Homo sapiens: one gene and its partners. The protein of the gene in region 3 interacts with the protein of the main gene of each other region in a biochemical or structural test. Each region holds a gene or a part of one and is shown on either strand. Other genes may lie near its edges.

Region 1 (3,653 bases), on a different chromosome or scaffold from region 3:
CGGTGAGCCCCGATCATGCCATTGCTCTCCAGCCTAGGCAAAAGAGCGAAGCTCCGTCTCAAAAAAAAAAAAAAAAAAAAAAAGTCATAGTCCTTGTAATGGGCCCCCAAAAGACGCTCTATATGATGCCCTCACTCCACCTACCTCTCTGACTTATCTTCAGCTGTTCTCTCTCCATCCCCTAACCTTCTCTGTTCCAGACAAAAATTAGCTTCCTTGTAGTTCTTCAACGTGCCAGGCATCCGCTCACCTCAAGGGCTTTGTACTTCCTCTTCCTCCCCAAGATATCCATATGGCTTGCTCCCTCAGCTCCTAAGATCTTCATGTTTTCTCAGTGAAGCCATCATAACTGAAATTGCAAACCCCATTCAACCCTACCCTGCACACTCCCTATCCCCACTCCCTGGCTTTATCTCCACAGCACTACTAACAAATCTCATTTCTACTTATTTTGTTCAGAATTTAAGCTCCATGAGAGGATGGATTTGAGTCTATTTTATGGACTGCTATATCCTCAGCATTTGGAACACTGCCTGGCACAATAGATATTCAATTAATATTTACTGAATTCTGAATCTATTTGATGTTATGAAAAGAGGGAAATAAACGATCAGAATTTCATCGTTAACATCATTAAGGCAGGGTTATTTTCAAGGCAGGATGTGCACATTATGGAAGGAAAACAAAAGGAGCCACTCAGGTATGGGGAAAAATAGTCTAACTTCTACTTATATTTATTTTTAACCAGAAAAATGTTCATATTTAAATAAGCTTTTAGGTATGAAAAACAATAAATGAGAACATTTTATTTACACTGCCTTCACCTAAAAAAAAATACATCATAAACTGTTTCATTCCACAAGCTACAGGGCATACGTTAAAAACAACAACAACAAATAACTTCTCTCTCAGCACAGTAATATACTGAAATAGTCATAAGATGTAAATACAAATCAAATGCTTCCCCAAAATGTGTTAATTAAACCCATGGCCATTTTAGGTAATGTCTCTGGTATTTTAAGACTAGTTTTTTGTTTTGATCATGGCGATGTAAGAGCAAGTGAGAAACTGACATGTTCTTTAGGTTCAAACTAAAACATTTTTAGAGTATTAAAAAGCTCAAGAGGCAATAATGAAGCCTCTGACCTTGGGAAGTCCTTTAACATGTGACCAGAACAAAAGAGGCTGGTCTTCATTTTTTAGGAAAAAAGTTAAGATATTAGGGATGAATAGCAGGAGTAGAAAAATGAGAAAATAACTGGATGGTAAAATTCCTTGAATTCTGGGCTCTCCTCACCTCCATCCTTTAATTTTACCCCAGGTCTTCATGTTTTTAGAAAGCCATAAATTGGGTGACTGGAAAAAAAAGAAAGCCAGGGCCCAAGAGTCCCAATCCACCACTCACCAGTTACACAAAGTAGTAGCAGCTCTGTATCTACTATAAAAAGCTACAGAAAGGCCTCCAAAAGCGTATCCCAAAATAGCTTCAAAATCACTCTCAATACACAGTGGCAGAGATAGGTATGGCATTTACTTTCTCATCTTCAGTTCACCCTCAAAATCAGATATTCTTTGTAAAGAATGTACATATTAAGCACATCATGTGACCTGATCAAGCCTAGATTTAATTGGAACACATTCTAAAATAAGCTTTCGTGTGTAGAAAACATTTTGAAATAGTCCTTATAATATATGCTGCTCTCAAGTTCTAATGGACTGACACAAAAACATGCATAATTATTTCACTAAACTGTTGGTTTCCCTAACAAACCCACAGCATAAACTGTGGGAGGGGAAAAAAGGAATAAAATCCAAACTAAATGAAACAAGTCTGAAATGGCAGCATCTGAAAAAGTCTCAACCACAGAAACTGATGTCAACTTTTTTCCTAAAAAGGCAAAAACTGGCTAGGAAATAAAATCTTTCCGGCCACTATTCAACACATGACTAACTAAAATACCTTCTGGTTTTACACTATTCTTTGGTGGAAAGACAGAGTACAGTATGATTTCTTTAAGTGAAGAAGTAAAGGGCTAAAATTCCTACTGTTTCACTTATCTATCTTTTTTTTTTTTTTTGAGACAAGTCTCGCTCTCTTGCCCAGGCTGCAGTGCAGTGGCACGATCTTGGCTCACTGCAACCTCTGCCTCCTGGGTCCAAGTGAGCACCTGGCTAATTTTTGTATTTTTAGCAGAGACAGGGTTTCACCATGTTAGCCAGGCAGGTCTCGAACTCCTGACTTAAAGTGATCTGCCCGCCTCAGCCTCCCAAAGTGCTGGGATTGTAAGCGTGAGGCACCACGCCCGGCCTTATCTATCTTTTGGCACAAATAATTTACATTGCAGGTGGGATGCCATGGTTCACACCTGTAATCCCTGCACTTTGGGAGGCTGAGGCAGGCAGGGGAATCACTTGAGGCTAGGAGTTCCAGACCAAGCTGGGCAAGCATAGTGAGACCCCATCACTACCAAAAAAAAAAAAAAAAAAAAGTTGACAAATGAGATCACATAGGAAGGCCATAGTTGTTTACAGAAAAACAGAATAACCCTTAAATGAATTTTGTGATTCTATTATGTTTAAAAGCAGTCCAAGGATTGAATCCCAAACAGAAGTGAGTTTAGGGCCATGCATAATAGAAAGCACTGTAGACTATGTTCAGGAAATTAGTTAATGTAGACTATGTTCAGGAAGTTAGTTACTAAAATAGACAGGTAAGTTGGTAAAGGAATAGGGTATGGATTTAAATGTCCACAAAATTAAGTCTAAAGGAAGGTATCTCATCTTATAGAACGCATACAATAGTTAATGCTACAAATATTTTTAAAAGGAATCAAATATCACATCAAATTGATCTAATTATCAACAGATCTACTGGGTCTTGAAGAGCAAACCCTAGACTCACACTACTGTAAACTATACTGTAGTTAGTCAATTATAACAACTGACATTCTGTCAACCTATCTCTATTAACCAGGACTCTTATTTTTAAGTTGAAAAATAATTTGTGCTCAGTACGAAGCAATGACAGGTCTTAGATGCTCTTCTGCAAGGCAATGATTGGAGTATGTACAGTAAAATTTTGGGGTAATAAACAGTATTCTTAGAAAAAGTGCTAATTTGTGTGTGAGAAAAGTTGGTCCAGTTAGTAACTATCTATATCCCAGTGCATCCTGTCTACAGTGATTAGGTTTTTTAGAATATTCTCTGAAACACAAAATTGCAATATATGACCAGTAATATCAACTGTAGATCTTTTAGCTCATCTCAAACAAGAGCTGTCTGATAACTCAGTAACTGCCAATTTCATTACTGAAAAATAAGTGTTAAAAAACTGAGTGATGCTTCAATGATACCTACTCTGTAAACTCCAACCTGTCACTACATCTTTAAGCGATTCTAAAATATTAACAAACAGGGTTCTGGACAAAGTTGTGTGTTATAGAAAAAAAATTTAAATAAAGAAAAAAATTATGAAAAATTTGTAAGATAAAACAAACGGGCTCCTTTTTTGGGATCACTAATAAAGCAAGTCAATTCTTCATTATGTACACAACTGTAAGTTACTTATGAGAATCTGCAAGTTCACCCTCTATATATATAAGTGGGCATTTTTATTTATCACTTTTTTTGTAGAGATGGGTTTCTCTATGTTG
Region 2 (3,653 bases), on a different chromosome or scaffold from region 3:
CGGAGTCTTGCTCTGTCGCCCAGGCTGGAGTGCAATGGTGCGATCTTGGCTCACTGCAAGCTTCACCTCCTGGGTTCACGCCATTCTCCTGCCTCAGCCTCCCAAGTAGCTGGGACTACAGGCGCCCGCCACCACACCTGACTAATTTTTTATATTTTTAGTAGAGACGGGGTTTCACCATGTTAGCCAGGATGGTCTTGATCTCCTGAGCTTGTGATCCGCCCGCCTTGGCCTCCCCAAGTGCTGGGATTACAAATTTTGTATTTTTAGTAGAGACGGGGGTTTCTCCACTTTGGTCAGGCTGGTCTCCAACTCCTGACCTCAGGTGATCCGCCTGCCTCTGCCTCCCAAAGTGCTGGGATTACAGGCGTGAGCCACTACGCCTGGCCAGTGCTAGAGGTTTTAAAGTGGTGGGCTAGACTCCTGTGATGGTAGATAAAAAGAAAAACTGTGGTGTTCAGCTTGGCAGTTTTGAGTTTCAAAAGGCCTCAGCTTTTGTGAGGTTGGCTGTTACAAGTGCAGCCAGAGAGCACCAGGCACACACATGTGGTTCCGCAGAACTAGAGTTGTTACTCTTCGCCGCGAGGGAAACACGCACCTGGGGACTGTGGGAATTCGGCCCTCACTCTTACTGGCCGGGAGCAGGGGATATTTGGTGATTTTTGTGGTTTGTATGATGATCTTGGATTTGTCACTACTTAGAAACGATTATGAGTTGTTTTTTTTAAAGTTTACTTACTTTTGGTCCTATTTCAGCACAGTCACACAGGTGACCTTCTCTGATGTTAGTGTTCTGCGAGATTATTCTATTCAATAGTAACACCTCCACCAGGGCGAAGCTGCGAGTGCCAGGCTGGTTCTCATACGTCAGGGCTGCCTGACCCTTTTACAGGATTACAGGCGTGAGCCACTGCGCCTGGCCAGAATGTCTGTGTGTTTTAAAATTCCAAACTTGAAAGTAAAATCCAGGTGGATAGCATTTGGAAGAGAATAAAACGAAGTAGAAACAACACTACTTTTTTGTAGTGAGATCTCAGCTGTCCAGATGCCCGCCCTGTCTTACTCCATGGAAAGTGGACCCATCTGTTGTGGATGGTTCCACCAGTGGGCAGGAGGCTGTGGGAAGAGCAGCCCTGGCTACACTTACCACCGAGGAGGGAGTGGTGTGTGATGCAGGAGTAACAAAGGCGTTGAAGGCACCACGTGTGTAACAGGCACGCGGGAGTCTGGGTTAGTCAGAAAGGGGAAAGCAGTGCTCAGGTTGACTGGAAACATAGGCCGGTGACCGGAGACAGCCTGAGGCTCCAGAACACACAAGTGACCTGTGAGGAAGGAAACTGAGAGACCCTGGAGAGACACCGGTGGTGCCCTCTCAGGTCCTCTTGAGTGTTACGAGGACGGGGAAGAAATAGAGCCTCCCAGCCAGGGTCAGCCAGCACAGCCTCTGTATGTGAAGCGTCAGGACAGCGACGGCCGGGAGGAGGGGATGCTAGGAAGTGAGTACCAGAAGCACTAGACAGGGTTTTGGGAAGCTATATTTAGCTGGGGACGAAGAAGGAACAAGGAAGGAACAGGCAGATGGCATAGCACGAACGCCGGGTGGAAAGTGGAACTGCTCGCTCCTGTCGTGTGTGTCTCTTCTCCATCAAAAAAGAGGCTCTTAAAAATCGAAAGCATGCCACAGATACGATCAGAGGCTCTTTGGAAGCTGCATTTTTGTAACTGGTTCTCGATGATCCTCTCCCATGGTAAAGATTTGGCACCATATGAAGTCCTTGGGAGGACAAATCTTCAACAGTAGCCCATAGATGAAACCCAGATAGCTGTGGAAACTAATGTGCTCTTTGAATGTTAAGTCAGGAAAGCTTGAGTGGCCTGGCACGGTGGCTCACGCCTGTAATCCCAGCACTTTGGGAGGCCGAGGTGGGCGGATCACGAGGTCAGGAGATCGAGACCATCCTGGCTAACACGTTGAAACCTCGTCTCTACTAAAAATACAAAAAATTAGCCGGGCGTGGTGGCGGGCACCTGTGGTCCCAGCTACTCGGGAGGCTGAGGCAGGGAGAATGGTGTGAACCTGGGAGGCGGAGCTTGCAGTGAGCCAAGATCGTGCCACTGCACTCCAGCCTGGGCGACAGAGCGAGACTCCCTCTCAAAAACAAAAAAAAAAAAAAAAAAGAAAAGAAACCCCGTCTCTACTAAAAATACAAAAAATTTAGCTGGGCGCAGTGGCGGATACCTGTAGTCCCAGCTACTGGGGATGCTGAGGCAGGAGAATGGCGTGAACCCGGGAGGTGGAGCTTGCAGTGAGCCGAGATCGCGCCACTGCACTCCAGCCTGGGCGACAGAGCGAGACTCTGTCTCAAAAAAAAAAAAGAAAAAAAAGAAAAAAAGAAAAGCTTGAGTGAGATGAAATTAAAATAATTTTCTCATTTTGAGACAGGGTCTCGCTCTGTCACCCAGACTGGAGTGCAGTGTCACAATCTCGCCTCACTGCAACCTCCACCTCCCGGGTTCAAGCAGTTCTCTGCCTCAGCCTCCCGAGTAGCTGGGATTACAGGTGCCTGCCACCATGCCCGGCTAATTTTTTGTATTTTTAGTAGACACAGGGTTTCACCATCTTGGCCAGGTTGGCCTTGAACTCCTGACCTCGTGATCCACCTGCCTCGGCCTCCCAAGGTGTTGGGATTAGAGGCGTGAGCGCTTTTCTTAAAAGAGTTCCAGGGTTCTATGTTGGAAGAGCGAGTTTGTCAGTTTTTATTGGAACAAAGAAATGAATTGACAGCATTGTGATAAACACTGGAAGTGTCACTTCTAAAATTTGTCCATGGCTGAAAGTGGTGGCTCATGCCTGTAATCCCAGCACGTTGGGAAGCCAAGGTGGGTGGAGCACCTGAGGTCAAGAGTTTGAGACCAGCCTGGCCAACATGGTGAAACCTGGTCTCTACTAAAAATACAAAAAATTAGCTGGGCGTGGTGGTGTGTGCCTGTAGTCCCAGCTACTTGGGAGGCTAAGGCAGGAGAATCGCTTGAACCCAGGAGGCAGAGGTTGCAGTGAGCTGAGATCTCACCATTGCACTCCAGCCTGGGCAACAGAGCAAGACTCCGTCTCAAAAACGCTTGTCCTTAAGGGGTGGCTTCCCCCAGACCTACAAAGTAGCCCAGAATTGGAGGTCTTAGTGTCAGCAACAGTGCTGATTTTGATAATGCAAGTCTGTACATTCAAACCAGTCTCCCAGAACTAGGTGGAAGATAGGAACATTTCTGCATAGGAGACTTGGAATGTTCTGGCAGCATTAAAACCCTGAGGCCCGGCTATGTTCTGGGAGAGCCCTTTGGCAGGCATCATTTACAGACGGGTCCTTTTCCTGTATGCTGTGGCTTCAACTAGGCTGTGTCTGAGAACTCGGATGGAGCACTTGAAAGTGCCCGTGGCTCCCGCCTGCCTTTGCGGTAAGGGACAGTGCAGAACATCTCCGGCTGTGCCAGCTGTTGTAGATTCTGGTGGGTGCTGCCATGGGAGGAGGAGCACGTTGTTGCCCCCCCTCAGGATCTCCCTGACCTCTGTCTTCACCATCGTTGAACTTAACGCCTGCTTTTGACCAGGTAGCGTGGAGTGTTTCAGTGGCATTTGTCATCGAAGATATGTTAGA
Region 3 (3,653 bases):
ATATAAATAATCTGTATTTATTAGAAATATAGGTATTTCTAATAAATATAAATTATGTTGCAGGTGATGGATTCCTGATAAAATGTGCTTTCTCATTTTTGCAAAAATAAAAAGTAGTCAAGAGCATCAGTAATTAAAACAACTTCATTTTTGTAAGAAGAAGGAATTCTAAATTATTGGCCAAACTGGTAAAATCTGCTTTTAAAGAACAATTAATCTAGATGAGAATATTTTTTTCAAATGTCTTCAGTAAGCACTCAAAAGTGATGTCTTTCATTTAATACAGGAACTGCCCATTGGGATAGCATTAGTTCCCATAATTCGCAGATGTGGATACCAGGCAGTTTTAACAGAATAGTTTTCCTACTACTTTCTCAGGCTCATCTTTTGTAAATGATAGGAAGTATTTAAGTATATAGACCATTTTAATCACTGGAAAACCTGATCAGAAAACAGTTTCATCATTAAGGCTGTCAGGTTTCTTTTGACATATTTATTTATTTAAAGATAGTGAGAACTCTGGGATAGGGAGGTTTTCTTTTCCTTATTTGGAGCCCACATGTTGTGAAACTGATCTGCTTACAGTGCTTTTCTTAGATTTCCTTTATTTTATGGAGTTTACTTATTTGGACTCGAATATTTTAATCCCAGAACCAGTGATCAAGTTGATAATTTCTGAGACACCTGATGTAGGTCTGTTTAGCTTAATAAAGGTGTAGATTTGCATCTTTGGAAAGGTTTTGTTTCCCTGTTAATTAGACTAGGGAAGGCATGGCTTCCTGGAATACTGTATCTTAGTTGTTGACACTGCCTTACCTGTTGTGAGGAATGCATTGAATGTTTGTTCACTGATAAAGAGGAATTTAAGGAGAGGCTCAAACACTCAACTTAATGTCTTTTGAATTTTAAGTTTTCTTGCTAACATGGAAATTGACTATGTAATTCTCATTTATCTGAACTGCTAAGCTCCCAAAATTGAACTTCATAGGTAAATTATTTGGAGATTTTGATCATGTTAGTATTATTTTTCTGGTTTATATGCTTTTCCTAATTTACTTCATGTTTCTTCTTTAGCATGAGAAAAATTACTTGCCAAGAAACTCAACTAAACTTGAGCCTTATAACTGGGATAAAATAGTTGAGGTGGATGGAACAGGAAATATGTCTGTTACTTTGCTGGGGGAGGATGGAGGACAAAAACAAACCTATTCAGTAGTCTGAGTTGATGCAATTGATGCAATACTTAGAAAAAGAACAGCCTTTTTTCTAGTTTAAAATAGTTTTTCGAGCCAGGTACTGTGGCACTCGCCTCTAGCCCCTAGCTACTTGCATCTTCAGTCCTAGCTACTCCAGAGGCTGGGGCCGGAGGATCACTTGAGCCCAGGAGTTCAAGTCTAGCCTAGACAACATAGCAAGACCCCTCCCCCTGCTACCCCTCCCCCATCCCCTGCCCCCCACCCCCCTTTTTTAAAAAAAAGCTTTCTCAGTAAGTTACTAGTACCTTTTGCTTTCAAATATTCAGAACAGTCAGGGCCATACATATAGTTCAAACACCTGAAAGGTCAATACATTTCTAGAAAAGACTCCTTTTAAGAGTGAGAATTCTGTAACATGAAGCCACATGGATATTGTAAGGCACTTCTTTGGACGCTTCCCTTAGGTGAGTGACTGTAATAAATCCCAAATGTGCATCCTCCTCCCTTAAGTGTTCTGACACAACCAAGTGGTGCAGTGAGCCTGTTTCCATATGTTGTGCAAAGCTGAAAGTGATAACGTGGAATGTTGCTTCAGTTTATTAGTTATGTTCTGTGTTTGGTTAGGCTGTGACCATGTGGCCTCCTCATGCGTTTAGCCAAAGTATATTGAATGTTATCAACAGATTTGAACATTTCCAATGTGTGACGCACATCTTGTTCCCAAAATTTTAGTGTTTCCTGCCTAATTTGAAGGAGAAAAGGAGAGTGTGGGATTGGAATCACCATGGGAATCCATCAGTTTTTTACCTCTAAGTAAAGAATTCCTGTTGGTTTTAGGCCAAAGTCAAGCAGTGGAATGAGCCATAGGGAGAGGGACACTGCTGATACCTGTCTATGGCCTAAGAAATGTAGCTGCAGAAGTTAAAATGCATATATATAAATTAGATAAGGAAAGCATGGTTTTTAAGTAGTTCCTATAGAATTTAGACCTAATAGTTTCTGCTTTTTATGCGCAGTTCCAATGATTTAAGGAATCATTAAGTAATGATATGTAAACATAAATATGCATAGATATTAACTTCTCTTTAATATTCTCTTAAGCTGGCCAGGTGTGGTGGCTCACGCCTATAATCCCAGCAGTTTGGGAGGCCGAGGAGGTGGGTGGATCACTTGAGGTCAAGAGTTCCAGACCACCATGGTCAACATGGTGAAACCCCGTCTTTACTAAAAATACAAAATTAGCCGGGTGTGGTGGCACGTGCCTATAACCCCAGCTACTCAGGAGGCCAAGGCTGGAGAATCGCTTGAACCTGGGAGGCAGAGTTTACAGTGAGCTGAGATCGCACCCTTGCACTCCAGTCTGGCCAAAAAGAGCGAAACTCCATCTCAAAAAAAAATTCTTTTAAGTTCTCTTAATATCTCTTAACATTAAGTTCTCTTAATATCTGTGCATGTTTCTGTTTAGATATTATTACTTAATGATTTCATGATGCCTCTACTTCACAGCAAATTTATTCATCCAAAAAATAGATCACATGAGACCCCCTGATTTATACTAATTTATACTTAGTTTATTCGTTGCTTTATTTAATAAATACTTCTTAAGCACTCATTAGGTGCCGGGCACTACACTAGCTGCTGGATAGGTAATGGTAGACAAACCATTCTTAGCTTTTGAATGTGTAGTCCATCTTGTGGGAGAGACACATTAGGTTTTGAATGTATAGTCCATCTTGTGGGAGAGACACATTAAGAAAATAATAACAATGCAGGCATGTAATTAAGTAAGTTCTAAGACACAAAGCTAGGGGAGAGGATAGAAGAAAGACCTGCATTTAGCGTGAGGGTGAATTGTGTGTGTGATCTTCAAAAGCTTCCTGAGGAAGAGGCATCTGAGCTGAGATCTTAAGGGTGAAATGATATTAATTAGGGAATGGGGGCTGGGCAGGGAAGGGGCAGAGGCGAAGAATATTTCAAAGGGGCTGACCTAAACAGGAAGGGATGTGCCTCCTAGGAAGAACTGACAGAAGGTAAGTGTGAACTAGGCAAGCCACAGGGATGGTGTAAGATGAGGCCTCAAATTTGATAATGTAGAAGGCATCAAGAACTGCCCCAAGGGCCACGTAGGGTGAAGGGTCAGATGGGTAGGATAGATAGGAAGTGCTCTGCATTTGGGATAAGAAAGAGGGACCATTGGGACTGAGACGATTAGCAGGGCTTCAGAACAGATACGGGATTGGAGCTTGTGTCAAAGAATGGAGAGATCGGGAAAGAAAGGTAGGGAATTCTAGATATGAGGGAACACACATGAAATTTATTTTCCCCTGTAAATGCTGTGTCTGCTTTCATTTCTCCATAGCACAGTCATACCTCCTTTCTCCCTCTTTCCCTGTTGCTGACTGTTAGGGGCTGAATTATGTCCCCCAACATTGCTACGTTGAAGTTCTAACTCCTAGT

The links.
Region 1: the proteins of SH3RF1 (region 3) and UBE2N form a complex in vitro, tested with the Homo sapiens proteins (2 studies listed by BioGRID).
Region 2: the proteins of SH3RF1 (region 3) and RAC1 form a complex in vitro, tested with the Homo sapiens proteins (one study listed by IntAct).

What each region holds. Positions count from the first base shown.
Region 1 is NC_000012.12:93,414,389-93,418,041, forward strand, and holds part of UBE2N (ubiquitin-conjugating enzyme E2 N), read right to left. Parts: intron 1-3,653. UniProt on the Homo sapiens protein: The UBE2V1-UBE2N and UBE2V2-UBE2N heterodimers catalyze the synthesis of non-canonical 'Lys-63'-linked polyubiquitin chains. This type of polyubiquitination does not lead to protein degradation by the proteasome.
Region 2 is NC_000007.14:6,394,877-6,398,529, forward strand, and holds part of RAC1 (ras-related C3 botulinum toxin substrate 1), read left to right. Parts: intron 1-3,653. UniProt on the Homo sapiens protein: Plasma membrane-associated small GTPase which cycles between active GTP-bound and inactive GDP-bound states.
Region 3 is NC_000004.12:169,264,422-169,268,074, reverse strand, and holds part of SH3RF1 (E3 ubiquitin-protein ligase SH3RF1), read left to right. Parts: intron 1-3,653. UniProt on the Homo sapiens protein: Has E3 ubiquitin-protein ligase activity. In the absence of an external substrate, it can catalyze self-ubiquitination. Stimulates ubiquitination of potassium channel KCNJ1, enhancing it's dynamin-dependent and clathrin-independent endocytosis.